2 separate regions of the Homo sapiens genome follow, and region 1 is linked to region 2. Evidence: fine-mapped expression QTL. A gene starts in region 2. The other region holds a variant in brackets. All regions are shown on one strand. Distances are between the middles of the regions.

Region 1 (14,968 bases), 41 kb after region 2:
TTCATTCTTGTCACCCAGGCTGAAGTGCAATGGCATGATCTCGGCTCACTGCAACCTCCACCTCCTGGGTTCAAGCGACTCTCCTGCCTCAGCCTCCTGAGTAGCTGGGATTACAGGCGCGTGCCACCAAACCCGGCTAATTTTGTATTTTTTAGTAGAGACGGGTTTCTCCATGTTGGTCAGGCTGGTCTCGAACTCCCGAACTCACGTGATCCGCCTGCCTCGTCCTTCCAAAGTGCTGGGATTACAGGTGTGAGCCACCGCGCCTGGTTATATTCATTTGAACTGGGGGTTCAGGCTCTGAGCGTGGGATCAGCCTGCCCTTTCTTGTAAGTCTTAGCTGTTTCTAGTAACTCCCTGCTCTTCTGTCATTTCAAACCTATTTACATTCAGAGCATATAAAATCTTGTAATGAGTTCTACCAGTTAGTTTCCACTATTTTTGTTGTTTTCCATCTAAAGTTAGATTAAAACATAAAATTATTAAAACTGTTATAGTTATTTCTTCAGTTATGTGTAAAATATTAAATATCTGACCGTTGTGTGTATATTGTCTTTTTTAAAGATTTCTTTTCTGGCCGGGTGCAGTGTGGATCACACCTGTAATCCCAACACTTCGGGAGGCCAATGCGGGTGGATCACCCTGAGGCCAGGAGATCGAGACCAGCCCGCCAACATGGTGAAACACTACCTCTACTAAAAATAGAAAAATTAGCCAGGCGTGGTGGAGTACGCCTATAGTCCCATCTACTCTGGAGGCTGAGGCATGAGAATCGCTTGAAGCTGGGAGGCAAAGGTTACAGTGAGCTGAGATTGCGTCACTGCACTCCAGCCTCAGGGACAGAGCGAGACTCTGTCTCAAAATAAATAAATAAATAAAATAAAATAAATCCCTTTTGAGAACTTATTTTTGGTTTCGGCAAATTTGCTTAGACTTTTACATAATATCCTGTTCTTAGTTCTTTTTAACCTCTTTAAACATCTAACGTATTATTTATCTCTTTCATACTGGCCTATTTTCTTGGATTTTTAGGTTTAAATTCTCCTTTTGGTTGACCCCACCAGCCCTCCTTCTTGAAGGTTTATTTTCTGCCAAGACTTGCAATTGTTAACTGTGGTTTCAAAGCTAGCAGCTCGCCCTGAGAAGTACCAGAGCCCCTGGGTTGTGGATGCACAGGACAGGATTATATGAGCCTCTGCAGAAGGTCTGTGGGCTTTACCTGTGCCAGATTCGTGTTTATATTTTTAAATACTTTTAGATTTAGAAAAAAGATAAAAAGATGCAAAAATGATTTAGAGGGTTTCAGGATACCTTTTACATAGCTTCCTCTAATATTAAAATCTCAATAACCATAATAAAGTTAGCAAAACCAGTACGTTAATCTTTGTACAATACTGTTAACTATAGACTTGATTTGGATTTCACGTTTTCCCACTATATTCTCTTTTGTTGTTGCTGTCATTCCAAGATCCTATCCAGGATTCTGTGTCATTTAGCTGTTATATTCCACTGTGTTTTGAGTTCCTTTTCCAAGTTTTGTTTTTGTTTTTTTGAGACAGAGTTGCACTTTGTCACCCAGGCTGGAGTGCAGTGGCGCGATCTCGGCTCACTGCAACTTCTGCCTCCTGGGTTAAAGCAATTCTCCTGCCTCAGCCTCCCGAGTAGCTGGGATTACAGGCGCCCGCCACCATGCCTGGCTGATTTTTTTTTGGTATTTTTATTAGAGATGGGGTTTTGCCATGTTGGCCAGGCTGGTCTTGAACTCCTGGCCTCAAGTGATCCACCCACCTCGGCCTCCCAAAGTGCTGGAATTAAGGCGTGAGAAACAGCGCCCATCCCCTTTTCTAAGTTTCAAGGGGATCTTGTTTTCTTGGGTTGTGTAAACAACTCCAGGGTTATCCTATTACCTTTCAAGACTGTGTGGACTTTGGTCTTCTCATCTTTCTAAATTGTGAGGCACTAATCTTTTAATTCCAAACTGAATTTGCTCTTAGTGGATTCATCCATTTGCTAAGTGGGTAGCAGTCAAACTACACTGAGTAGAAAGGATTGGCACAGGCAAAAACGAGTGAAAACAAGTCTGCAAATTCCACACACTGAATAGAATACCTTCAACTTAATTTCTTGGACAATGAAAGTGAGGCAGGAAAATGGGGTCTGGAGTAGGGGACATAAGGCCGAGCCACAGTTCAGCTATGACAGGAAACATCCTCTCCATAGGGTGTACGTCGAGTAAATGACTGTGTGACTTTACTTAAACCTCTTCATTTACATAGGGCGTACACCAAGTAACCAATGGAAACCCCTAGAGGGTATTTAAACCCCCACAAATTCTGTAACCGGGCCCTTGAGCCCCTATGCTCAGGCCTGCTCCCACACTGTGGAGTGTATTTTCATTTTCAATAAATTCCTTCATTCTTTCCTTGCTTTGTGTGTTTTGTCCAACTCTTTGTTCAAGACGCCAAGAACCTGGACACCCTCCACCAGTAACAAAAGTACTGGGTGTTCTCACCAGAGACACAAAATTAGAGAACAGAAAGATCATCTCATCCAATGTTTCATGTTTTACAAACGAGAAAACTATCATGTTGCAAAGGAAATCAACAGAAAATATCACTTTGACACCAATTCATAGCATTTATTGACATTTCCATTTAAAATGCTAGGAAAGCTGTATAAATTGTAAACATGGAAACCAAATACTTGCATAAATTATTTCAAAAACTCTACAGCACATTAGAAAACAGTGCAGCTATTGAAGGATAGAAACATAAAACCGACAAATAGAAGGGAGGGGCCGATTATTAAATCGTATACCCATACTGAGATTTCAGTGCCTGTTTGAGGACCAGCAAACCATGATTGTCAAGTTTAAGTTGCAGTATTGATGCCACAGTTGGCCTCAATTTGCTCTGCACATTTCGTACATTAACGCTCATAATCTAGGGATGAGTGTGCAGGAAGAGCCAGAAAAACATGGACCTTGACAAAGGAGGGAGAGACAAGTCAGTACTCCAGGGCAGCTCTGCCGAGCAACCTTTCCTATTAACGCTAGCCAGACTCCCTGCGTCCCAGAGATGCTCCGGAGGAGGGCAAAGTCGAGGGCGTTCCCACTCCCCTTTTCTGAAACAAGTCCTCTGGTGCTTAGAGCAACTGAATGAATGGGTGGAGCCTCAGTTCCTCTAGTATCTCCCTCTTCTTTCCCCACATTTGCAGGAGGAACAGTACAGCATATGCGACTTGAACTTGGCCCTGTACTATTCCCAACTTGTACACTTAGGGAGTCAAGTTATGAATACTTGAAATCTGGTAAGTACAGGAAAGACTATTCGTGATGCTCCAAGTAGCCCAGAAAGGTTCTGTGTAATCAGGGACTGCAAGAGACTCAAGTCACTCAAAATTTCACCTCTGTCCCTTTTACCTATTCCTTTTTTTTTTTTTTTTTTTTCCAGAGACAGGACCTCACCCTGCAGCCCAGGCTGGAGTGCAGTGGCGTGATTATAGCTCACTGCAGCCTCCAACTCATTGGCTCAAGCGATCCTCCAGTCTTAGCCTTTCGAGTAGCTGGGACTACTGGCACATGCCACCATGCTCAGCTAATTTTTAAATTTTTTTTGTAGAGACGGGGTCTCGTTATGTTGCCCAAGGTGGTCTCAAACTCCTGGCCTCAAGCGATCCTCCTGCCTCAGCCTCCCAAAGCGTTGAGATTAGAGGCTTGAGCCACCATGCCCAGCCTATTCACTCTTTCTTTAGAAATGTGAAGTGACCCCTGAAAAACCTGGAGGAAGAAGGAAAAGGAAGGATCCTGGATAATTATCTACCCTGTGGGAAGCCATTTTAACTATACTGCATTAAGACATTCATTGCTTCTGTCACTTTCTTACTGGCTCCTAACTTTGTTTCATGTTTCCAAAGGCATTTAATATTCTTTTCCTAAATTTCAATGCTGCTGTGTTTTAAGATAAATTATCAAGCCTACTGTCACACACACAAGCATGGACTTAGCAATGTACCATGATGTTGCGATTTCCAAGTCATCTTCATAGTGGAGAAAGTAGTCCTGTTTAAACACTGACAATCACCTCCACGAATATCAAAAGAAACCCGAAATGCACATCCTCCTTGTTCATTAGGTAACAAGTGTTAAGTCTATCATAGTTGATGAGTATGTTACAGCAGCTGCTCATAGAAACCCTGTTAGAACGTGTTAACATGTTAGATTAAATGTAAAAATGAAGTTCAGTTGACTATGCCATAGAAATGTGTTTTGTGTTCACATGCTCTGTCTGCCGGTACAGAAGTGGACTTCCTCCTGCTCCTGTCCAGGGCAAATGTGGATAAGCAGGCTCTAGTACTGGCGCTGGCACCTTGCTCCGGAGGTAGAAATGACCACGGTGAAAACTCCACTTGAGCTAAAGTTAGCGTGGGAGTTAAGACCGGAGTCCTCCTTCCCCTGTGCCCAAAACGTTACCCAGCTTTCCTTCCAAACGACAAATTCATTCATGTCTGAGAATCTAGTGTGAAAGGGATGAGAGAGACTTATATAACAACTAATTTGTGAATTACTGCCAATGCACTGCAAATCAGTGTCCGAATGACTGGCTTGGTCACTGGAACACTTAGAAAAAAGTTGTGCGAAAGAAGGAACGCTGAACCTGTCCACGGGAAACGGGAGACTCCTATAGCACAGAACCGCGTGCTGGCTTTAGCCCAAAGCCTTTAGCGCCTACCTTCACCCGTGCTTTGCCTCACAGTCCGCATGCCAGGAAAGATCTGGCCGGCAAACACCCACTGCTTAAAAGTCATCTGCCACCCAAATCAAAACACTATGAAATTAATAAAATTTGGAGAAAAATGTGTAGGTAGCAGTAAAGAAGCTGAATATATATATAGATAGATAGACAGATACATAGACAGACAGACAGATAGATAACCCACTATGCTCCACAAAGGATATGGCGTGGCCAAACGGCTGCTTGAGATCTGCTCTAAACAATGACCTCAGTGTCATTCTCATCATTTTCGTCCTCTTCCCTTGCCTCCCCCACACTGGAGTACTTCCTCTGTAGATCTTCACAGCCCTGGTCGTTTCCTTGCTGCATGACTGCAAAAGCATCCTTCCAGCACCTCTTCCTTCTCTTCTGAAACTCCCTCAATAGTGCAGTCGGGGATTCTGTCCCCATATCAAAGCAGATCAAGATCAAGTTCATTTCAGTGACAGCTTCACTCCTTCCCTACAGCCTTTCCCAGGCCCACTCTCAGCTCTTCCTTCCACGCCATTTGCCTGGGTAGCTGCCCTGCCTTCAAAGTCACTTCAGAAGTTGACGTCTCCCCAAGATATTGCATTTCCAAACATGCAACTTCTTCTGGGTGCCTAATTCATTTATGTCTTTTGAACAAATTTTTTTCTTTTTGAGACACAGTCTTGCTCTGTCGCCCAGGTTGGAGTACAGTGGTGCAATCTCAGCTCACTGCAACCTCCACCCCCCGGGTTCAAGCAATTATCGTGCCTCAGCTGGGACTACAGGCATGCGCCACCACACCCAGCTAGTTTTTGTATTTTTTTGTAGAGACGGGGTTTTGCCATGTTGCCTGGGCTGGTTTTAAGCTCTTGATCTCAAGTGATCCACCTGCCTCAGCCTCCCAAAATGCTGGGATTACAGGCGTGAGCCACCGCGCCTGATCTCTTCGAATGAATTTTATTGACACTTAAACCATGTTATTTATCGGTATCTTCCATCTTCTATACCCACTCGTGCTATCTTAGATTCTAAAATCTCAGAAGGCAAGGCTCATGTCTGCTGGGTTATTTGGTGCCAGAGACACCAGAAAGTCGGGAGCAGAAAGATGCTTAATAAATGCAATCGGAAAATTGGTGAAGGAAGTGAAATTAAAGCAAAATGGGAGTGAGGAAACTGAGTCACACCGAGCTTTCGGTTTTGCTCATTACCCATGTGTGAACCCATTCACCGCAGTAGTGCAGCGTTTCACATCACTCATCCTAGGGCGTCCACATAGACAGCATGCTACATTTTCACAGTGCTTTATGCTCCCTCCTCACAGGACATCTGCACACATGATCACATCTGATTCTCACAACTACGGTGCCTGGGAGGTGGCGGGGGAGGTCTGTTCTTGTTTGGCTTATGGGGAGAATGAAGTTCAGAGAAGGAACCAGACATGGTCAGTGAGTGACAAAGTAGTCTCTGAAAAAAAAAAAAACAACATTTCTCCAAACATTCTGACTCAAATTTACAGTTTGTGTTACCACTAGAACTTTTAAAATAGGAAAAAAGAATAGACATAAAATTCAACTGTTCATTGTAGAGTGCTTCCATAAACGGACTCCAAAGCCACACGCTGTCAACGCAAGGACCCTTCCTTTCAGTGGATGACGTGAACTTAATGTCTGAAGACCGCTAGGGTACGGTGCTGCTCACACAGCTAGTTTTTTCTGAGTTTGGTGACTGGCAAAACTGTTGTGGCAGGCGTCGAGAGGAAGCAAGTACAAACTGTGTGTGCTTTATGACCACCAGCAGAGGGCTGGTGATCCGGGGGCCTGCTCACACCACACCATAACCACCGGCTGTTTATTATACATCATCTTTGGTCTTGACATCTGTTTAAAGGTGTATTGTTTCTAAGAATAAAAATACAGTTAAAATCCCTTTATGGTAGTTTGAAAGACATCAAAATTGCTTTTACGGTCAGCCCAATTTGAAACAGAACCCTCTTTCTGCAATGCTCAAAGGAGGTTACCATTTTTAGCACACTCTATGTGCAAGCCTGTATGGCCCTGAGCGGAACTGGGTGAGAAGGGGCCATTTATCCCGTTTGCTGTCACACGATTTGAATTCATTACAAGGTGTCCATAATAAAATTCTGCTTGGATATCTGAAATTCTTAATAACATATTCAGGAAACCTGGTATTTTTGAGTGACATACAAAGATAATCGTTCAATTTGGGAGGAGTCGGGTATTAAACCAAGACCAAGAGAAATTTGGTATTAAACCAAAACCAAGACATCAAGCCCAGAAAGGGGCATTCTCTCCAATGCTCCTTGGAGCCTCTGAGGATCGCCTGATAAGATGCTGCTGGTCCTTTGTTGAACGTCCTTGAGAGACTTACTCTCCTGCACTCCTTCTCTTTCAGAGGTGCCCAGATGAAAACTGGCTACATCTTACCTTCCCAGAACCAACTTCCCTCATATTGTAAGACTCTAAATCTGTACAACAGGCTTCATTAATGAAGGGCTAAAACATGGTTTTGAAATCCAGTGATTACACTTTGGAAACCTGTTTTAGCTGTTTCAGGGGTCTTAAAACTTGACACAGATACACAGGTTTTGATCAGTCAGAGCCCCAAATTCTATAGCCCCTTATCTGTTATTTAATGAAAAGTACAGTCATGCACACATCAGGATGTTTTGGTCAATGACGGTCTACATATTGATGGTAGTCCCATAAGATTATAAAATTGTATTTTTACCATACCTTTTCTATGTTTAGCTATGTTTAGATACACAAATACTTACCATTGTGTTCAGTACAGTAACATGCTGTACAGGTTTGTAGCCTAAGAGGAATAGGCCATGCCACACAGCCCAGGTGTGTAGTAGGCTATACCATGTAGGTTGTGTAAGTACAATCTAGGATGTTGGCACAGCAACAAAACAGCCTAATGACACATTTCTCAGAATGCATCCCCATCATTAAGCGATGCATGACTGTCTTCGCTGATCTAATAAAAACAGGTTAATAGTGAAAATCTCTTAGCTAAGCCTGCTTTTCTTCTGAGTTTCACTCAGGTACCAGAAAACAGAACAGCCCTTGCCACTGTTTTCTTTACCATTATTTGGAAAGTGGGGGAAATGTTTACATCAGGAGTACATCTTAAGCGAGATGATCCCCTCTTAGCCCAAAGAGCATAAGACAATTTTAATAGCCACTCGACAGAGTAACAGCACAATAAAATCAGAAATGAGAAGCAACTCTCTCCTTTCCCTTGGGGTCTCAAAGCTCTTTTACATTTCTTGATTCATTACAGAGAGGCTGAACTGAACTCAATTTCATTTCCAGGCTCTGAACACAGGGAATGTGACTGGTAGGGATGTA[T/C]GTATAACAATTTCGTGGTGCTGGGAATTATTAAATAACTTCTGCTTACAGAAGATTTCTCATTCAGACATAATTTGTGAACAAATCAACAGCAAAGTGGAAGAAAGGATCAGTTAGGACCTCTTGAAAGCCGCATTCTACAGGATCGGCCTTAGCGATCGGTGCTGAACTGGGACATGACCAGGAGTTGTGTGTGCCCAATTAAGAAACAGCAAATACAATGAAGAATGTAGATCTAAACTTTGATCTGTATTTTGGATAATCAAATAAATATAAAGCTTTTTGCCCCACTTTGGGAGGGATTTTTTTTTTCTAGAACAAAATGAAACCTTCAACATATTCTTCCACTGAAAAAGCCAAAGTTCCATTTCAGACATGAAGGTGAAGGGCCCTTGGAGCTGTAGCACCAGAAGAAGGAGGAAGAATGCGGGTGATGGCTTTGTTTGGAGTCATCAGGCTCTACAACCTATCATTTGGTTTCTCACTAGTAGCTTTTTAAAATTCCCAAACAGTCTTAGTATTCTTGTTGTTAATGTTACTATTAAAATAAGTTCCTATGGAGTAAAAGAGAAAAATTAAGCTGTTAATAAAATGTCTTCAAACCTCTTCTCAGAAAACAAAGCAGCAGGTTCATCGTACACGTACCAGTCTCAATCCCACAGAAACGCTTGGTTCCTTTCATCCCTATGCTGTCTATACAGTTTAATCTCTACCTTTAAAAAAGAGACGAATGCAGTCATTTTGTTAGCTTAGGTTTGTGTTTTGTTTTTGTGAAGTGCTGCTGGCTTTTGGCCAAAATACATATATTTCAACTGAACCCAAGTGTTCAGACAATTGCCAGCCCAGTGAAAGGCTCATGAGCTGTCACACGACGTATGGCATCTTCTAAATTGCAACTTGCTCCCTCCCTTGGGCAGGCTGCCCGAGAGTTGCTCCTTCCTCTTCCAAACACCCACTCAGTTGATTTCCTTTTGGTCTTGCTTCCACAGGAAGCGGATACTTGGCAAATCTGCGAGGCGAGGCCGATCAGCTGTGGAAGTTCTGCACGGTGCTCTGTTTCTGGGAGAGCCGGAGGAGCTCCTCGCGGATTGCTTTGATGAGAGAGGCCGAGGAGTGGCCAGGCTGGAGGTCTTCCGTGGAGCTGGTGGGGTAACCCAGCCCAGGGCCCTGCAGTCCCCGGTGGGGGAGGTTCCCGGAAGGAGCTGAGGGCTCCCTGCCTGAAGTCCTTGGCACCTGAAATAGCGGTGAAGAAGAATACTCTTGATGTCCGAGCATGTGTGTCTGAAAAACATGGCAAACGTCACTGTACTTCCTACGAAGAATAAGCCGAAACATCAAATGCAAACTGGCTTTAGGAAGGTTCCCAGGACTGCCCACGTCCATCCACCAACTCAGCCCTCTAACAGGGCCCTGCTGCCTATGCTGCAGGTGAGGCGTGAAGACACCAGGGGGCTGGGGAGAACAGAAGGGAGGGAGGCTGGAGTGCCCCATGATGTGAAAGGTCGGGTGATATCTGAGAGCTGAAGGAGGTTAAGCGGATCCATGCCAGGCTGACAAGGGGAACAGGTGCCTCTGCCCTGGACTGGAGCCTACGCAACCATCTTCTGCTTTATCTAGCTGCTGTCTGTCTCCTGTCTCTGCGTGAGTGTGTGTCTACTGAGGGCTCTGTAGAGCCTTGTCTTTAAAAACTTATCTGCACTAAAGCATAAAATAGTTTTGCTGATATTTGCCGCATAGAGATTAATTTGGCAGGAGTTTCACAAGAATTATTACACTTTTCAGATTTTTTTTTCATGTTTATTTCTCTCCCAGTGGAAATAAATGTCTCTTTGCATTTATATGTAAGAGTACTTAAATCTGCGTACTAAAAACCATGTTAGGGCTAAGTTATTTGTGAGCCAAACATGACATTCCAGCTCTAGGTTCTTTCTACGTTTCACTTCTCCAAATAGTGACCGAGCAGTGTTCCAAAGTGGATGTGACAGGAAAACCTTAACACACCATGCCAGGCACGGTGTCTCATACTTGTAACCCCAATCCTTTGGGAGGCCAAGGAGAGAGGATTGCTTGAGGCCAGGAGTTCAAGACCAGCCTGGCCAACATAGTGAGACCTTGCCTCCATTTTTTCAAAAAAACAAAACACCAAAACCAACCCCAAACACCTCATGAAGCTAAGCTGGGCAAAATGAAGGCAAAAAAAGAGAAATGGCAGCAAACTTAAAGCAGATACCTGAGACTCTAAGTATAACAATGTCTCTTTTAGGGAAGCACCTTATTCTAAAGTTAATGTCTTTTTACTAGGTAAGAGCATCCAGCCATGAAAGGAATTGAGTGTGTCTGTTGGGAAGGCACAGAAATGCAACAGACACTGTAGCATAACGATAAGGAGAAAACAAAAAGTAATATTCTGGGTGGTTATTTTCAAACTTCATGAATTTATCCCCCCAAGATATACAGTTCTTGAGAAAAGCAAATGAAAGCACTTGTAGGAATTACCGATGCTCATATTGAGTGAACAGAAGTCTCAAAAAGAAAACCTGTGCCTTAAAATGTCCCCAACTGTGTGCTTATTACAAAATTACCTACACATGGTCATAATACAAATGACATTAACAAACCCACAGTGAAACACAAATGCTGTGGAAGAGCATGAATATTTATACAGCAATCCCGCCAAACATGAACTCCAGAGTTGTCACCTATAGATTCGAATTTACTACTGAAAGCTTGAACTCTGCCTCAAGAAAAATTATATACTTCCTAAAAGCTAGATGCTAAAAACTGTAAGCCAAAACACCAGGAGGCAGGAAAATGTGAGAGAGATTAAAACTTTTTTAAATGTAGGTTTTAAAAAGGGACCCCCCCCAAAGCAGAAGCTGCTAAATTGAGGGATTATGTCTTTTTTTTTTTTTTTTTTTTTTTTTTTTTGAGACAGTCTCACTCTGTCACCCAGGCTGGAGTGCAGTGGCACGATCTCGGCTTAGTGCAACCTCCATCTCCCGGGTTCAAGTGATTCTCTTGCCTCAGCCTCCCAAGTAGCTGGGACTACCAGCACCCGTCACCACGCCTGGCTAATTTTTTTTTGTATTTTTAGTAGAGACGGGATTTCACTACATTGGCCAGGCTGGTCTCAAACTCCTGACTTCGTGATCCGCCCGCCTCGGCCTCCCAAAGTGCTGGGATTACAGGTGTGAGCCACCGCACCTGGCCTATGTCTAAATTTTAAATGATGACCCAAACAGGAGATACTCACGGCCTCTCTTCGCCCCGCTTCGTCCTCCCCGTACGAAGGCCAGCCTGGCCCCCCATACTGGCTGCCTCTGCTTGGCGGGATTTCCACTGGCTGAGCTCCAATTCTGCTGGCAATCCCCACCTGTGTCAGGTGCTGGATCTGGGAGCCTGGAAGGAACATGGTGGAGTGGCCTGGTCAACATTTATAGGAGAGTATGGCTGCTGAGGATGGCTGCCGAGGAAGACACTGTCAACTCTGACCACTACACTCCTTAATGACAAGGGATCAGGACTTGGTACCAGTTCTATCTCCAGAAATCTCACCTCAACTGCCATACTGTCAGCATTTCCTGAGGGTCCCATAGGTAAGGAAATGCACCACGAAGCGGTAGGAAAATGTACCACGAAGCACCGTGGACCAAGCAATAAAAATAAACAAATAAAAGAAGAAAATCCCATTGCAAAAAAAGTCTGAAACAGAATTCTTGACCCCGTGACATTCATCCCTAAGCCTAAGTCTGTCCCCCATTTCGCCCTCCCCATTTCCACCCAGGGCTGTGCAGCCCTACTTGCTCAGATCTAAAAACCTACACCCTATGCGCCACTCCTCTTTCCTGCGCACTTCTACCAGCCCATCAGAAAGCCCACGGGCTCCTCTCCTGAAACACTGTGTGAGGGTGACCCCTCCTCCCTGTGAGCACCACAACAGCCCCAGTGGAACCACAATCCCACCCCTGATGCAACTGTTTTGGAAACACCCTGTCAGAAGACACTGTCAGCTCTGATCACTGCACTCCTTAAGGACAAGGGATCATGACTTGGTACCAGTTCTATCTCCAGAAATGGCATTTCCTAAGAGCAACAGACCATAAGCTTCTTGGTTCCTGGACTCTGATTTTCTTTTAATTCAGAGGCTGACAGTGATGCCCTTATTTTCGTGGCTAGACATTAGGACTGGGGATAAACGGTACCACAGAAGGTACTTCCATTCATCTCTGTGGCAGTTACCAACAAGGAGCAGCTCATTTATTAAGAAAGGGGTGACAGGTTTGGGAGCCACCATGAAGCTGAAGCCTGGCTCTTTCTTGCTTGTGGCTTCGAGATTCACAAGGAGCTGGTTATACAATATGCTTATTTTTTTCCCCTTAAAAGGCAGAATACGTATCTATTTAAATTCAGCATATTGAAGTATATTTTCATTATAACCCATATTGTGTCTGTAATGTAGCCACAAGACAATTAAAACCACTCCCCCAGCCTCACTGGTGCGGTGAGCTGATGGCAGAGCCAGAGGACTCTCTAGAGCTAATTACCCCCCTATACCCAGACATCTGCAGCCTCCTGTGGCTATGGAAGCCAGGTAATACACAATGTTTTTCTCCCTCACCAACTTCTGTCGTATGGAAATATACCTATATTGCAAATTAAGGGCGAACAAAGTGATCCTTAAGCACTGTGAAATAGAATACTTATTTCTAAATTTGGAAATTTCATCAAATTCACCAGTGATGCTCAGACTGGAACCACAAAGGCTCCAAGCGTCCATATCTAAAGGAGGCACCTCCTCCGTCTTTAAGTCTATTCCTACTCTAGTTGTCTAATTAATAACCTCCATTCTCTCAATTCTTTATTTTAAGAGATGGGGTCTCACTATGTTGGCCAGGCTGGTCTTGAACTCTTCCTAGCCTCAACTGATCCTCCCACTTTGGCCTCCCAACATGATGGGATTATAGCTGTGAGCTATCGTACCTGACCGACAACCTCAATTAATCAACCACATTTAAAAAAAAAAAAAAAGAACTCCTCGATGGTTTTATTCGGATATTTAATGATAACTAAAAGTCAGGAAAAGCTGTCCTGGCTCTGGGCAGAGCAATGCACTCTACTGGAGCACCAGGTCAGTTACTGAAAAATCCTAACAGTATTAAAATGATCAGGACTACCAGCACTCCTTGCCCAACAGACGTTGTTTGAGCAAATCTTGCAAAATGCTGCAAGAGCAGCGCGGTGTTCCCTGTTTCCAAAGGCTCAACCAACTGCACAGGGAGAAAAGCACACCTTCTGTGTAAAGCCACTCCAGTAGCTGAAATCATCATTCGGTAGGATTTTGTATCCTGTGTTGTTCACTTAACTATACAGCACAGGCTTCCCCCATGAGTCAGCATTGAGCCCAGCAAGCCGGGGTTTGCATTCCAGCTCAGCCATCGACAAGCCATGTGACCCTGAGCAACGGGCTATGGCTACCGCTGAGCCTTGATTCCTCACTTCTCCAGCAGGAATAAAAAATCTACCTCAGCTGGGTGCAGCGGCTCACGCCTGTAATCCCAGTACTTTGGGAGGCTGAGGCGGGCGGATCACCTGAGGTCAGGAGTTCACGACCAGCCTAGCCAACATGGTGAAACCCTGTCTCTTCCAAAAATACAAAAATTAGCCGGACGCAGTGGCGGGCACCTGTAATCCTAATCATAGCTACTTGGGAGGTTGAGGCAGGAGAATCGCTTGAACACAGGAGGCGGAGGTTGCAGTGCGCCGAGACTGTGCCACTGCACTCCAGCCTGGGCGACAGAACAAAAACTCTGTCTCAAAAAAAAAAAAAAATCTACCTCAGAGGGTTATTTCAAGGATTAAAAGACATAAAACAGATGAAGCATCAAACACATAGGAGGCAACTGGTAAATCTCAAATCCCCCTTTTCTGGCTTTTTATGACCTCTTCATCTTAAGTAGCTGCAGGATTTACTCAAGGATGCCCTTACTACTGAGTATCTGGGGAAACTAACAATTCTTTGCTATTATGCAAATAATGCCGTGATAAATATCTTGGCACGTCATTTTCCCCCAATATTTTGGATTTTAGGAGAGTGAGCCTGGATTTCCAGAACTGGAATTACCAAATCAAAGGCTCTGTAAGTCCTACCGCCAAACTGCCTTCCAAAAATTTAATAATTTATGCCACCACTGAAAATAATAGTGACAATGGTCATGGCAGCTAATATTTATTGAAAGTTTATGCTATGCTAGGCACTATTTTGAGCACTTCTGTCATCTTCTTTTATCAGCTAAACAACCAAGGAGGTAAGTACGAATATTCCCAGTACATATAGATGAAGAAACTGGATGCTAACTTTACCATGCCACATTATTATAAAAATAATTTCATGATTGAAATGGTGCATTATGGTGTTAATTTGCAATTTTAAAATAATTTAAAAACTGGACCTTTTTCCTCCTCCCACTGATCTTTTCAGGTTGGCCCACTTAATTTATATGAGGTATCTTCTACAATAAAAATACTTCTTGATCGTGAGGTGCTGTAAATTTCTCCTAGGTACTATTTTCTTTTTTTGAAAATAACTGGCAATTTTCAGACAAATACATGCTTCATAATTTTCTATAGTTAAAAAGGTAATCCTTCTAATAGATCTTAACATTTTCCATTATATGTTTTTACATAATTTCACCTAATAGAAATTTAAAAATAATTTCCTTTTGAATGTTATCAAACATGTATAATTTCTATATTCGTTCAGATTTTAAACTAAAAATTAATACATCTGAATTTTGCTTAGTACGCATGCCATGTAGGGAGGTTCAAATACCTAAAATTAGCAGGGGAATCAAG
Region 2 (14,968 bases):
TACTAAGGAGGCTGAGGTGGGAGGATCACTGGAGCCCAGGAGTTCGAGGCTGTAATACACTGTGATTGCACCTGCGAATAGCCACTGTACTCCAACCTAGGCAACACCCTGTCTCTAAATAAATACATAAATAAAATGAAACATATGGACAAAGCATTTTCAAAAAAGAAAAAAGAGGCCAGGAGCAGTGACTCACACCTGTAATCCCAGCATTTCCAGAGACTGAGGCGGAAGGATCGCTTGAGCCCAGGAGTTTGAGACTAGCCTCGGTAACAGAGCAAGACCTCAACTCTACTAAAAATAAAAAATATTAGCTGGGTGTGGTGGTACATGCCTGTAGTCCCAGCTACTCAGGAGGCTGAGGCAGGAGGATGGCTTGAGCCCTAGGAGGTGGAGGCTACAGTGAGTTGTGATTGCACCACTGCACTCCACCCTGGGCAATAGAGTGAGATTCTGTCTTAAAAACGGAAAAAGAAAAAAAGAGAAAGAGAATGAAGGGAAGTTATAGAAAAGGCCAGAAAACACAGTGAGAGAGGGGTCTTTGGATGTTGGGAAGACAGGTCCAAACAATCATTGACTTGACTATCTGGTTCGCTTCGGTTTTATGTGAACAAAACTGGAGAAGAAAAATTGGCGGAATATTTATTACAAACCTGCAGCTTATTTCCAAAAACTTTAGCTTAAAGTTACTCTTTGAGAACAAATCTCTCTGTTTATTAAACAAAAGATGAATCTGACCACATGCTCAGATTGTTGTGCCAACAGAAATATTTTGCACAAATGATAAGAGTAATTGTAGGGAACCAGAAATTGCCAATCATAGAGTTGAGAGCTGAAAAGCCCTCCTTCCAACTGTTTATTAACTTCACCTTAAAATGCCCTTACTTGTTTGATGACAGTAACTCACAAACTTTTCTACCCGAGCTAACCCACAGAAGAGCTGGCTGTCTTAAAAATTAGTAAGAAACCAATCCCTTGAGGCATTTAAGCAGAAGTCCAACTAACAACCTTAAGAAGCAGGACAGGTCAAATGCAGCTATACCAAACTCTATAATATCCTACTTTCCTTATAGGAAAGTCATATGGTTTGGCTGTGTCCCCACCCAAATCTCATCTTGAACTGTAGCTCCCATAATTCCCACTTGTTGTGGGAGGGACTCAGTGGGAGGTAATTGAATCATGGGGGCAGGTCTTTCCTGTGCTGTTCTCATGATAGGAAATGAGTCTCACAAGATCTGATGGTTTTATAAATGGGAGTTCCCCTTCACACGCTTTCTTGCCTGCCACCATGTAAGATGTGCCTTTGCTTCTCCTTTGCCTTCTGCCATGATTGTGAGTCCTCCCCAGCCATGTGGAACTGTGAGTTCAGTAAACCTCTTTTCTTTACAAATTACCCAGCCTTGGATATGTCTTTATTAGCAGCGTGAGAACAGATTAATTCAGAGGGCATTCTTCCAAGGTTAAAGATTGGCCCGGATGGTCTCTGAGGTCCTTTTCCAACACTGAGATTCTAATTGTAATCCGATGTTATATCTGTGTCTTCTTTCTAGTCTTCTTTGTGTCCTGACCATCCGTGGATATGTCTGTACATTCCATTGTGACCACGAGCACTCCAAGAGCTGAGGCTATGATAGGCAGTAATCTGCACCATGTGAAACTTAAAGGTTAAGGTTTTTTGGGGGGTTTTTTTTTGTTGTTGTTGTTGTTTTTGTCTTTTTTTCTTTTTGAGACAGAGTCTCGCTCTGTTGCCCAGGCTGGAGTGCAGTGGTGCAATCTCGGCTCACTGCAAACTCTGCCTCCTGGGTTCAAGCAATTCTTCTGCCTCACCCTCCCGAGTAGCTGGGATTACAGGTGCCCACCATCACGCCTGCCTAGTTTTTGTATTTTTAGTAGAGATGGGGTTTTACCATATTGGCCAGGCTGGTCTTGAACTCCTGACCTCAAGTGATCCACCCACCTCAGCCTCCCAAAGTGCTAGGATTACAGGCGTGAGCCACCATGCCTGGCCAGCTTGTTTTTTTAATGGAAAAGAAGATTCCCTGATATTGAACATTTTTCCCAGGTAATGGGACAGATATGTAAAATCTGTCTGCTTCATTGTGACTGTATTGCTTTCCTGTGAAATAATCTTTAAGAATGTATTAACTTAGGCCAGGTGCAGTGGCTCACGCCTGTAATCCCAGCACTTTGAGAGGCTGAGGCAGGTGGATCACCTGAGGTTGGGAGTTTGAGACCAGCCTGACCAACATGGAGAACTCTGTCTCTACTAAAAATACAAAATTAGCTGGGCATGGTGGTACATGCCTGTAATCCCAGCTACTCGGGAGGCTGAGACACTAGAATCACTTGAACCCGGGAGGCAGATGTTGCAGTGAGCCTAGATTGCACAACTGCACTCCAGCCTGGGTGACAGAGCAAGACTCTGTCTCAAAAAAAAAAAAAAAAAAAAAAGTATTAACTTGATTTTATTTCTTGATCATAAAAATAATATACACATTCATTATTTTAAAATGGAAACACAAAAAAGTATTAAAAACAAAATTAAAACCACCCAAAACTGTACATCCTAGATATGACTACTACTAACATTTTGAGAGGATTCATTCCAAACATTTTTCATTGTATATGTGTATATATTACAAAACTGGAATTATATTGACATAAAGATTTATATCCTGCTTTTCTGTTTTGTATACTATGGCAAATGTTTTCCCAAGTGATTAAATGGTACCCAAGAATGTTTTTTGTTGCTGCTGTTGCTGTTGTTTTTTTGAGATAGAGTCTTGCTCTGTAACCCAGGCTGGAGAGTAGTGGCATGATCTTGGCTCACTGCAACCTCTGCCTCTTGGGTTCAAGCGATTCTCTTGCCTCCAGTCTCCTGAGTAGCTGGGATTACAGGCACATACCACCAGGACTGGCTAATTTTTGTATTTTTAGTAGAGATGGGGTTTTGCCATGTTGGCCAGGCTGGTCTCAAACTCCTGACCTCAGGTGATCAGCCCACCTTGGCCTTCCAAAATGCTGGGATTTTAGGTGTGAGCCACCATACCCAGTCCCAAAAACGGTTTTAATAGCTACCCTTTATTTCATTATAAACTGCTTCCAAGCTTTCACTTTTACAAACATTGTAATATTGAGATGGAGAACTTTGGATATGCATTTTTGTGCTCATCTTTGGTTATTTCCTTGGGGATGAAATTTCTAAAGGGCTACACCATAGAAGGAAAGGTATCCAAAATAAACTGACACACATCGTCTCAATTCCTGAGACCGGAATGACATGATAGCAGATTTGTGTTGCCCCCAAGCACTCGATTAAAGCAACAACAACAAAAATCATGTCTACAGGAAGAAAGCATTATCCTGGGTCTCAAGTTATTTCTATAAACAATAGTATGTAATTGCAATTTTGCCCACAATAAAAAATAACCAGGTATGCAAAGAAACATGATCATATGAATGAAAACAGCAGAAATAATAGACAATGGAAATAAACGAATGGGAAAAGAATGGCGAAGACTGAGGTTATCAGACACGGATTTTAAAGGAATTATATCCCCTCTGTTTATGAAGATGAAAAACAGGACTGAATAGTTTGGCAGAAAAAAAAATATAAAAAAGAACAGAATGGAAATTCTGGAACTAAAACTAAGATAATCGAAATTAAGAACCCAATGGGTAGTTATAAAAGAGGATTAGACACAGATGACAAGAGATTTCATAAAAGACTGGGCAAAAGGCAATATCCAGAGTAAAACACAGGAAAACAAAAAGATAAAGAATAAAGAAGAAGGTAAGAGAATTACAGGATGGAGTGGAAAGATCTAACCTATGTGTAATCAGTCACAAAAAGAGAGGAGAGAATGGTTCACAAGTAGTATTTGATGGCTGAGAAGTTTTCAAAACTTATTAATAACATCAAGCTCCATATCCAATTGCCTACAAACTCCAAAGAGGACAAAAAAGGAATCCATACTTCAGCACATCAGAGTAAAACTGCTGAAAACCAAAGGCAAAGAAAAATTTAAAAACAGCCAAAAAATAAAAGAGGCAAATTATCTGCAATGAAGCCCCAGTGAGGTGGACAGTTCTCAACAGAAACAATGGTAGCCAAAAGAAATGAAATGTTATCTTTAAAGCACTGAAAGAAAATATCTGCCAACCTTACATTTTGTACCCAATGAAGGTGATTTCCAAGAATGAAGGAAGAATAAAAACATATCCAGACAAACAAAGTAACATGTTAATCACTCCACTGAGGGAATACTAAATGGTATTCTTCAAAGAGAAGGAAAATGATCACAGATGGAAGACCAGACATGCAGAAATAAATTAAGAACAATAAACCGGTAAACATGTAAATAAATTTAATAAATTTCACTCATATATTCACTTGGAAAATAATAATAATAATGACTTATTGAGTTAAAAACTATGTGTATAACTAACATACATGACTACAATGGTATAAAAATCAGGAGTGGATAGGCCAGGTGTGGTGGCTCACGCCTGTAATCCCAGCACTTTGGGAGGCCGAGGTGGGCAGATCACGAGGTCAGGAGATCGAGACCATCCTGGCTAACACGGTGAAACCCCATCTCTACTAAAAATACAAAAACTTAGCTGGGCGTGGTGGCGGGCACCTGTAGTCCCAGCTACTCGGGAGGCTGAGGCAGGAGAATGGCGTGAACCCAGGAGGCAGCTTGCAGTGAGCCGAGATAGCGCCACTGCACTCCAGCCTGGGCGAGTGGGTAAATGGAGTTAAAGTTCTGAGGTCTTCATATTATCTATGAAAGTGGTGAAAGTGTCAATTAATATTAGACTTTGATATGTTAAGAATGCACTTGTGAGAACATATATTCAGGGTAACTTGGATCTATGCTCCTGGGTTGCAGAATAAAATAATCTTAAAAAGCAACAAAAAAGGAATGCATGTCGTAATCTCTACAAAATGGAATAACCCAACAACTCAATCCAAAAGTAGTGAGAAGAAAGAGAAAAGGAACATAAGCTAGATGGGAAGAGTAGAGAGCACTTGGTAAGCTGATAGATTGATTTGTTTGTTTTTAAATTTTAGAGACAGGGTCTCACTCTGTCACCCAGTCTGGAGTGTAGTGACTCCATCATGGCTCCCTGCCATCTCGGATCTCCTGGGCTCAAGCAATCCTCCTATCTCAGCCTCCTGAGTAGCTGGGACCACAGGCTTGCATCACCAAACTCAGGTTTGTTTTTTTTTTTGTTGTTTTGTTTTTTTTTTTGTAGCAACAGAGTTTCACTATGTTGCCCAGGCTGGTCTCACAGTCCTGGGCTCAAGAAATCCTCCCATCTTGAACAGGGTTTTAGAAAAGTTGAAAGTAATATGATGGGAAAATGATTTAGCATGCCAAACAAAACAAAAGAAACCTGTTATAGCTACAGCAATATCAGACAAAGTAAAGTTTATGGCAAAAAAACATTACTAGAGATAAAGAAGGCTGGGCGCAGTGGCTCACACCTGTAATCCCAGCACTTTGGGAGGCTGAGACGGGAGTCTCACCTGAGGTCAGGATTTCAAGACCAGCCTGGCCAACATGGTGAAACCCCTGTTTCTACCAAAAATACAAAAATTACCCGGGGGTGGTGGCACACGCCTGTAATCCCAGCTACTCAGGAGACTGAGGAAGAAGAATCGCTTGGACCCGGGAGGTGGAAGTTGCAGTGAGCCGAGATCGTGCCACTGCATTCCAGCCTGGGCGACAGAGAGAGACTCCATCTCAAAAATATAAAAGAGATGAGGGATATTACACAATGATTTTTTAAAAGAAGGTTCAATTTGCCAGGAAGTTGTCAAAATTCCGTATTTGTTTGTACCTCAATTACAGCCTCAAATATTGAATGCAAAAGTTGACAAAACTACAGGGAAGAAAGAAACCCGCAATCATCTCTGTATTCAACAGAATAATTAGACCAAATTTTAAAAGACAGGAAAAATATGGATGTTCTGAACCACACAATTAGCACTCTTGATCTAATGGACTTACCCGGAGCACTGACCCCACAACTGCATGACACATTCAAGAGCCACAAAAATTGGTCATATGGTGTCTTTTAACTAACATCAAAAAATAGAAATCATCAAAGTATATTCGCAGGTCACAGTGCAACTAAGCTACAAATCAATAACAAAAAGATAACTAGAAAACCTCCGTATGTTTGGAAATTAAGAAATATACTTCAGAGAAGATGGGAGGGAATAAGATACAGGACCTAGGTGGAAGGTTGTTTTCGCCAAGAGGAAGGACCTCCTTTGTGTTAACCTCCGCGTGTCTGGACCATAGCTGCACCGCCTCCCAGTGCAATTTTGAACAAGCTAAATTAGTCATCCTGGGAAGTGTTCAAAAATTATTCCAAATGGTGGACTCCAGGACTTCCTTGCTGACTTTCTTACTTTGATCAACTAACTCTATGGCATGATCTTAACAGCTGTAGTTCTCAAGGTTTCCTAAAAGGGAACCTCTTGTTCTCTCCAAATTACAGACCCATCACTGAAGGGCAGGGAGTGAGGTTAACTCCTCCACAAACTAAGTGCTGCTCAGGTCCACATCTAGATGTTTCGGTCCCACAACCACCCAGAGCCTGACATTATTTTGTAAAAACAGATCCTGACAGAGCCAGGAGCAAGAAGAGCCATCAACCCCATCTCTGTGAGGGAGCTGGGGCTTGGCAGGCACAGGCTTGGTTAGGGCCACAATTCTCCTCTGAATAGATTTTGGGTTAACTGGAGATGAAAAACCCAAGTTCAAGGTGAGAGGTCTTTTCCCCGAGATGGACAGGTGGCAACGGGGCCTATCAGAATCACAAGAGAAGCTTCATTAACATGAAATATTCTTCCCTGGGCCGTTCCAGGCCACAGACTGCAGGTTTTCCATCTTTTAGCCCTGGAAACTCTCTGCCTACTTCTTTTCTTTTTCACATGAAATCTTATCAGGGATAACAGGTGAAATTGGAAGCAGTAAGAGCCCTGGAATCCCACTCTCTTGGCTACTCCTCTCTCCAACCACCACCATGGTGCCTAGCCACAGACATTTCAGCCTGAACTTTTAAAATAGTGTGTGTAACCAAATACCTATCTCACCCATTTAAAAAAAAAAAAAGTCTTGAGAAAGTCTAGCTTTGAGTAAGGCAACTTCCTGATATGCGCTCCAAAGTAAACCTGATGCAAAATGTATGAGTGAGGAAATGGGCCACATGGAGTTGTTAGTTGTAGACCTGCTACAAACAGCAAATACTGGTGACACTCGTAAAGTAAAAAGTGGCCACACACACACAGCCCTTTCTTTGGGGTTAATAGTTATCATTGGCCAGTCCAGCCCACCCTATTTTTTTTTTTTTTTTTTGAGACAGAGTCTCACTCTGTTGCCCAGGCTGGAGTGCAGTGGCACAATCACGGTTCACTATAACCTCCACCTCCCCAGTTCAAGTGATTCTCCTGCCTCAGCCTCCCAAGTAGCCGGGATTACAGGCATGCACCACCACGCCTGGCTAATATTTCTGAATTTTTTTAGTAGAGATGGGATTTCACCATGTTAGCCAGGCTGGTCTCGAACTCCTGACCTCAAATGAGCCACCTGCCTCAGTTTCCCAAAGTGCTGGGATTACAGGCCTGAGCCACCGTGCCTGGCCCAGCCTATACTATTTTCGAATAACAAAGTTCTTCCATCTGTAGATAGGAGAATGTTTGTCCTACAAACAGCTCATCTAAAACAGTCCGACATCACATAACAATGATAAAATAGGGAGGGAGGGCCAACACATTATCCCCCTCCTCCACATCCACTGCTTGCCAGAAAAGCTTTCCCTGATACGACTTGATAGGATGGTCTCAGCTTAGGCTGCAGATGCTGTTCAATCCACCACTACAATAACCCCAGGCAGGCCATCTTACATGTTTGCATACCTCAGGTTCCGATTCCATAGGAGGGACAGGCTCTGCTCACGTCAAACACATTAAAATGCACCCAGCGTCCCACATTAAATCGTTTCCGTTTAAACATTTCAAGTGAACTGTATAACTTTGCTTTTGAAACAATCATTTATTTTGCCCAGTTTTTGATTGTTCAAATTTTTGTTTGTTTGTTTGGGGACAGGGTCTCACTGTGTCACCCAGGCTGGAGTGCAGTGGTGCCATCTCAGCTCACTGCAGCCTCAACCTCCTGGGCTCAAGTGATCCTCCCACCTCAGCCTCCTGAGTAGCTGAGACTACAGGTGCACACTACCATACCCAAGTAATTTTTTTGTGTTTTTTTTTGTTTGTTTTGCGGAGGCAGGGTCTTACTATGTTGTGCAGGCTGGTCTTGAACTCCCTGGCTCAAGTGATCTTCCCACCTCGGCCTCCCAAAGTGTTGGGATGACAGGCGTGTGCCAATATGCCTGGTCTGTTCTTCAAATTTTGGATCTGAGAATATTTTCTCAGGTCTCAAACATTTTTGAGATCCTTGGAAATCTTGGGGATTCCACGTACCGCTGTTATCCCTAGTACCCATTGGATAAATCAGTCCTGCCCTGTGAAGCCCACTGCAGGGTTTACTTGTGAGGAAAACATCGAGGACAGCATTTGTTCTACTAAGCAGCGTCCTCTCTGTGGGGACCTTGAGTTCCTTGAGCACAAGGGCTGTGTGGTCTTTCTCACCCCCAGGTCCCCACACCGAGAGCCTGGCCTGGCATGCAACTGTTTAATGTTCAACTAGTGGTAATGCCTAAACTGGACTTCTGTGCACTGACTGAAAATCACCCTTCCTAGGGCACGTTGGCCCTATCCCCAAATCCAGGAACATAGGCCACCACTATTTTATATCTTAGAGCCAATTAGAAAAAAGTGCCTCCCCTGGGCTGTTACACTCCACTAGGAAATCTTTCCTTGGGGCTTACTCACGCCTTCTATGTCTTTCCACAGAGCTGGAGTCCACCCCTCACCCTTACCAGGCCCATTCATGCGCAGGAACACTTCCACACATGGCAGGCTGTGTGCACACAGACGATTCCCTCGCCTTTATAGGTGCTATTCCTTTGACTTGAAAAGCCCATCAACTCTAATCTGCACATACAAACTTCAGCACCCAGCCCAAATGTCACTTTCTCTGTGAATCCTTCCCCTATACCTCTCAGGCAGAGTTCATCCCATCCTCCTTTTTATTCCCATCACAGTGGAAGGTACCCCTATTTGAGTCTTGCCAGGTTGCATCAAATTTCTTTCTTCCGGGTTTGGTTCCCTGCTGCACTGTGCTCTCAAGGGGAAGAGGCGTGTCTCAGTCATCTCAGTCTCCAGTGCCTAGGATGAGACCTTTTATATACATGTGGGTCTTCAATAAATGTTTTAGACGGAATGCAGAGCTCTAGTCAAGTTACTCCTCAGCTCAAAATCTCTACAGAACCTTCCCCTTTGCTTCCTGACTTTGTTTCAAATTCCTCTACCAGGCACGCAGAAGCTTAGCCCACAGCTCTCCTCTTGCCTCCCCACCTCACATGCCTTGGCTCACCTGCGCTTCTGGGTGCTGCTGGTACAGCCACCCTCTGACACTTCCTTACCTCTGGACCTTTGCTCATCTGTCCCTCTACCTATAATGCCATCTTCCCCTCTCCCCCTGTCAAAATTCTAGCCATCCTTCAAGGCCCAGGCCAAATGCCATTTTCTTTTTTTTTTTTTTTTTTTTTTTGGAGATGGAGTCTCCCTCTGTCGGCCAAGCTGGAATGCAGGGTCAGGAGCATCTCAGCTTACTGCAACCTCTGTCTTCCGGGTTCAAGCGATTTTCCTGCCTCAGCTTCCCAAGTGGCTGGGACTACAGGCATGCACCACCACACCTGGCTAATTTTTGTATTTTTATTAGAGATGGGGTTTCACCATTTTGGCCAGGCTGGTCTTGAACTCCTGACTTCAAGTGATCCACCTGCCTCAGCCTCCCAGAGTGCTGGGACTACAGGGTGAGCCCCCATGCCCAACCTCAAATGCCATTTTCTTCTTGAAGCATCCCATCAGCAGATGTGGCCTCCACTGTTGAAACCCACAGTGCTTTATCCTCCCAAGCCATTCCTCAAACACGGTTCTGGGGTTGAATGATGCGTGTTTGTAATTAACGCACTTCGACAGCAGGTATCTCCCAACTTCAGCATAGTGGGTGCTCAGTGAATATTGGCCCAAATGGAATTGAGCATCCATGCTACACCTGCAGATGGGAGAGGCAGCAAACTCATGTCCCAGGAACCAGCATGACACAGATCTCTCTTGTCCTCCCCTTGTTTCTCAATAAGGACAATATTTGCGCTCAGGGGAGAAGGGCACAGCTTGCCCCTCCCTTCCTTCCTCAGCCAACGGTTTGGCTTCCCTTCTAGAGAGGTGAGAGAAGGTGTGACAGGCCAAGTTTCCTTTGCTCCACCCCATGGTGTTTCCCCCAAACACCCAGCATAAGTTCACCTCTGGCAGAGTTGCTTTCCAGCTCCTGCAGGTGGGAGTCGACTCACCTGCAGCAGGCACTCGGCACAACTCCGCAGGACCGGCTCACCTGCACCGGGCACTCAGCACAGCCTCCAGCATGCAGCGCCTCCCCGCTGCCACCCGGGCCACCCTGATCCTCAGCCTGGCCTTTGCCTCCCTCCACTCGGCTTGCTCGGCAGGTAGCGTTATGAGCTTTATTCATGGCCAGGCTGGGAAGGGGGAGGGAAGGAGGGAAGAGAGGTGGGAGGGAAAGAAGGAGGAGGGGGAAGATTCTTTGGCCAGGGTTGGTCCTGCGCAAAGGAAGGAGGAAACAGAACTTTCTCATCTGAAGGATTAGGCAGGGGGTGGGAGGTGGGGCTGGGGCAGGGGGGGTCTTAGGTTGGCCTGAGACGGAGATCAGATACTCAATTCCTCAGCTAAGGCAGGAGCAGCCACCTCTCTTGGCCTTTGCCACAAAGAAAGGAAAAAGTTATTTGCTGGAGTCTCACCCATCAGGGGACCAAAATGATATCTCTTGGTCCGCTGTGTCCTGAAGGCTCCTTCTCAGCCCCACTGGGCTGTCGTGCTTTGCAATCCTCCCTGTGCACATTTGTGTCTGACCTTCCCTTTCCTAAGTCCTCCATCCCTCCCTGCCCCTTGTACTTTCTCTGCGACTTTCACAAAACCTGACTGCCAGGAGGGCTGCCATTCACTGTCTCCCACCCTCCTGCCTCCCCGGGCACTGGAAATGCTGGGTTATCTCCCCATTTTCCTGTGGAGGCTGGAAGGCTGATCTACATCCCCTGCCTTGCCCTGCCAGGCCGGGTTCTGCAACTCACGGCAGAGGGACCTTGGTTACCATCTTCTGCTCCTGGCTTTGATCTTGTTCTCAGCCACCTCAGAACACCACCACACTCTCTATGCCCTGCAACACTCCTGCTCCCAAAACCAACCCTGCCCCCAAAGTCCTGTGTCTGCCCCTCTCATCCTCAGACTCTCTTCTGTAGCCACTGCCAGGGGTGTTGGTGTTGAGGTTCAAGACGTGCACTCTTGAGCCGCTGAGCCTGAACCCAGGTCCAGCTTCCATGACTCACTAGCTATGCGACCTCGAGCAAATGACTTTACCTCTCTATGCCAAGTTTCCTCCTTTATCTCATGGGGACAATCATAGTGCTTGTCAAGACGAATTGATGTAATTTCATGTAAAGAACTTAGAAATAGCCCATAGAACACACACAGTGAATGTCAGCAATTATGGTAAGCACATTCATTTTATTTTCCAACTTCACCCCTCCCCAAATAAGAGTGCTGAGTTTCTTTCTACTTACCCCGACAGTGCCTTGCTTATGATGGGAGCTCAGAATCAGAAGACAAGTTTAACTGCACTGAATCGTTGGGTCTTCCCAGCAGCTTTTCTTGTGGAATAGCCCCAAGTAGGGCCAGTCCCTCCCTCGCTTCTGGCTCTGCTTATAAGGGAGGAGGGCGATGTTTAAATTCTTAGGAATTTTCACCGGGGCTATTCCATTTGAACCACAGAAAATTGCTGATATTGAACAATTTTCACCTATAACAATGGCAATTTCATAAGCTCGAACCTAACCCTAGCATTCAGCCAACTAGGGTTTTTTTCCACTCACTTTGGAAGAGGACAACTTCCATTCTAGGTGTAGAGGTGAAATGAAAGTCAGGGCCAAGGAAGTTATTTGAGTCATAAGGAAAATTAGAATAGTGAGGAATCAGTTTCTCCAAAACAAATAAAGACCAGGCTCTAAGCCATTTAGCTGTAAATAATTTACAGTAACAGATTGCATCGAGGCAATTACTATACTTTAAGCAGGACATTGGAGTGGCTTGGGGGTTGGGTGGCATAAAATTAGTCTCAGCAGCAACTTCATGGCTTTAGCTAAACAGCAGGTTTCTTCTGAACTCGTCCTGCTGTGACAACAAGCTCCCTTGAAGGACACACTGACCCACAGCCAGGGGAACCTTGAGAGTTTCCATGCCCACCACTTTTTTTTTTTTCCTTTTTGCATTCCCCAAGAAGCAGAACGAACAGCAATATAATTTCTAGGAAGGTTCTTCCAATCCATCTCTTGGTTTCCATCTACCTAGGTCAGCATGAGCACTGTCTAATAATAGAACTTGCACTGAGGGTGGAAATGTCCCATGTCTGAGTGGTGCTTCCAATATGGTAGCCACTAGTCACACGCGGCAATGGAACCCTTGGCATGGGTCTAATGTAAACAAGAAGCTGAGTTTTTTTTACTGAATTTGATTTTAATAAATTTAAACAACCACAGGTGGCTAGTGGCTGCCGTATTGAACAGTATGGACTTAGAGGTCATCTCTCTTCTTATTGTCAGTTATGGACAGGAACCTGGATGCCTCAGATCCCTAACCCAATCCCACACCTCAAGACAACAGGACTTTAACAATTCATGCTAAAGTCCTTTTTATCTTTCCACTCCTTGCTCATGAATCAATCTATGTGCTGCGTATTCTGGCAGTCTCTGGGCTTGCTTCTATGATGTTTAATTTTTTTTGACAGCCATCATTCTGGAGGCTGGAAGTCCAAGATCAAGGTGTTGATGGTTTGATTTCTCCTGAGGCCTCCCTCCTTGGGTTGCAAATAGACGCCTTCTCACTGGGTTCTCACGTGGACTTTTCTCTGTGCATGTGTGTTGCTGATGTTTCTTCTTCTTCTTCTTCTTCTTCTTCTTTTTTTTTTTTTTTTAGACGGAGTTTCACTCGTCACCCAGGCTGGAGTGCAATGGTGTGATCTCAGCTCACTGAACCTCCGCCTCCTGGGTTCAAGCAATTCTGCTGCCCCAGCCTCCCAAGTAGCTGGGATTACAGGCATGCACCACCACGCCCGGCTGCTTTTGTATTTTTAGTAGAGACAGGGTTTCATCATGTTGGCCAGGCTGTTCTTGAACTCCTGACCTCAGGTGATCTGCCCACCTCGGCCTCCCAAAATGCTGGGATTACAGGTGTGAACCACTGCACCTGGCCTCTTCCTCATCTTATAAGGACCCCGCCATATTGGATTAGGGCCCACCCATAGGACCTCATTTAAGCTTAACTGCCTCTTCGAATGTCCCATCTCCAAATACAATCACATTGGGGTTAGGACTTCAATATATGAAACTTGGGAGAGGGGAACATAATTCGGTCCATAACAGGGAGTTAGCTTTGTTGCAGAAAGCCTCAATATGCCCATGCGGGAGCTTCTATAATACTTTCATAATACTCACTACTGATTTACAAAAAACATTTCAAAATCTATGCCTGGGAATAGCTTTTGCCAGTGCCTCAGACTATCTCCTATCTTTTCTTCCAGAAGCAAGCAGCAGCAACAGCTCAAGCTTGACCGCTCACCACCCAGACCCTGGGACCCTGGAGCAGTGCCTCAGTAAGCTTCTCCTGCCAACTGCTCTAACCCCAGAACTGGCCCTCAGCCTGGGAGGGAAACAAAGGCCTCCCCGCTTTCCGTTGATTGGTGTCAAGTGGGCAAGGGCCTGCCTGGCCTTCCTGTGCACCAGTGTGGTTTGTCCCAGAACTATTTGCAGAGCAGGTCTGAAAGGCTTTCTTGGCTCTGATCCCCATCTAGGTGCACAATCTTTGACACAGATTGCTTTAATGACCCATCCCAGGTCAGCAGCTAACAATGCCCTAGGTTCAAATGCTTGAAGAAGTTTGGAGGTGGAAAGGCCATAAGAAATCATCTAGTCCAACTTCCACCCAATGCAACAGCTTGGTTTTGGCGTCCTTGGCATACATATTTCTTCTTCTTCTATGCACGTTTTTCCTCTTCTTGCCTACTTCTAGCCACAAGGCGCTCAGTAATTCATAGAGCAACCACTATTATGCATGTCTAGCTAATAGAAAGTTTTGCAGCTGGGCGCAGTGGCTCATGCCTGTAATCCCAGCATTTTCGGAAGATGAAGCAGGTGGATCACCTAAGGTCAGGAGTTTGAGACCAGCCTGACCAATATGGTGAAACCCTGTCTCTATTAAAAATAGAAAAAAATTAGCTGGATGTGGTGGCATGCGCCTGTAGTGCCAGCTACTAGGGAGGCTGAGACAGGAGAATTGCTTGAACCTGGGAGGCAGAGGTTGCTGTGAGCCGAAATTGCACCACTGCACTCCAGCCTGGGCAACACAGTGAGACTCCCTCTCAAAAAAAAAAGAGAAAGTTCCACTTTATTTTGTCTGGTTCCCTTTATCCTGCCCTCATTGAATGACCGAATGCATTAACTTAGGCACTTAAAACGAAGGATAGGCTGGGCGTGGTGGCTCATGCCTGTAATACCAGCACTTTGGGAGGCCCAGGTGGGTGGATCACTTGAGGCCAGGAGTTCAAGACCAGCCTGGCCAACATGGCAAAACCCAGTCTCTACTAAAAATACAAAACATTAGCTGGGTGTGGTGGTGCGTGCCTGTAATCCCAGCTACTTGGGAGGCTGAGGCAGGAGAATTGCTTGAACCCAGAAGGCAGAAGTTGCAGTGAGCTGAGATCAT

Direction of the effects. Positions count from the first base shown, and alleles are read on the strand shown. Sizes are in standard deviations (SD) of each study's normalised expression.
In carriers of allele T in region 1, the expression in prefrontal cortex of the gene that starts at base 10,455 in region 2 tends to be lower than with C alone (moderate effect, 0.69 SD a copy in BrainSeq).

Evidence for each region. PIP is the estimated chance that this variant, and not a neighbour inherited with it, causes the effect.
Region 1: its variant is fine-mapped to the expression of TMEM213 in prefrontal cortex (BrainSeq, PIP 0.95).

Annotation. Positions count from the first base shown.
Region 1 is chr7:138,828,764-138,843,731 of GRCh38, forward strand. KIAA1549 reads right to left here. Exons shown (of 20, transcript NM_001164665.2): 19 at 11,370-11,515; 20 at 2,618-9,397. The coding sequence ends at 9,143. Among named protein-coding and RNA genes, the nearest start is that of ATP6V0A4, 38 kb to the left of the region's middle. RefSeq lists an enhancer at 1,621-2,120 and a silencer at 3,201-3,495. The variant T/C (reference allele first, on the strand shown) is at 8,117.
Region 2 is chr7:138,787,540-138,802,507 of GRCh38, forward strand. TMEM213 (transmembrane protein 213) reads left to right here and starts at 10,455. Exons shown (of 3, transcript NM_001085429.2): 1 at 10,455-10,647; 2 at 13,788-13,859. The coding sequence starts at 10,566. ATP6V0A4 (ATPase H+ transporting V0 subunit a4) reads right to left here and starts at 10,657. Exons shown (of 22, transcript NM_020632.3): 1 at 10,495-10,657. RefSeq lists a silencer at 10,425-10,719.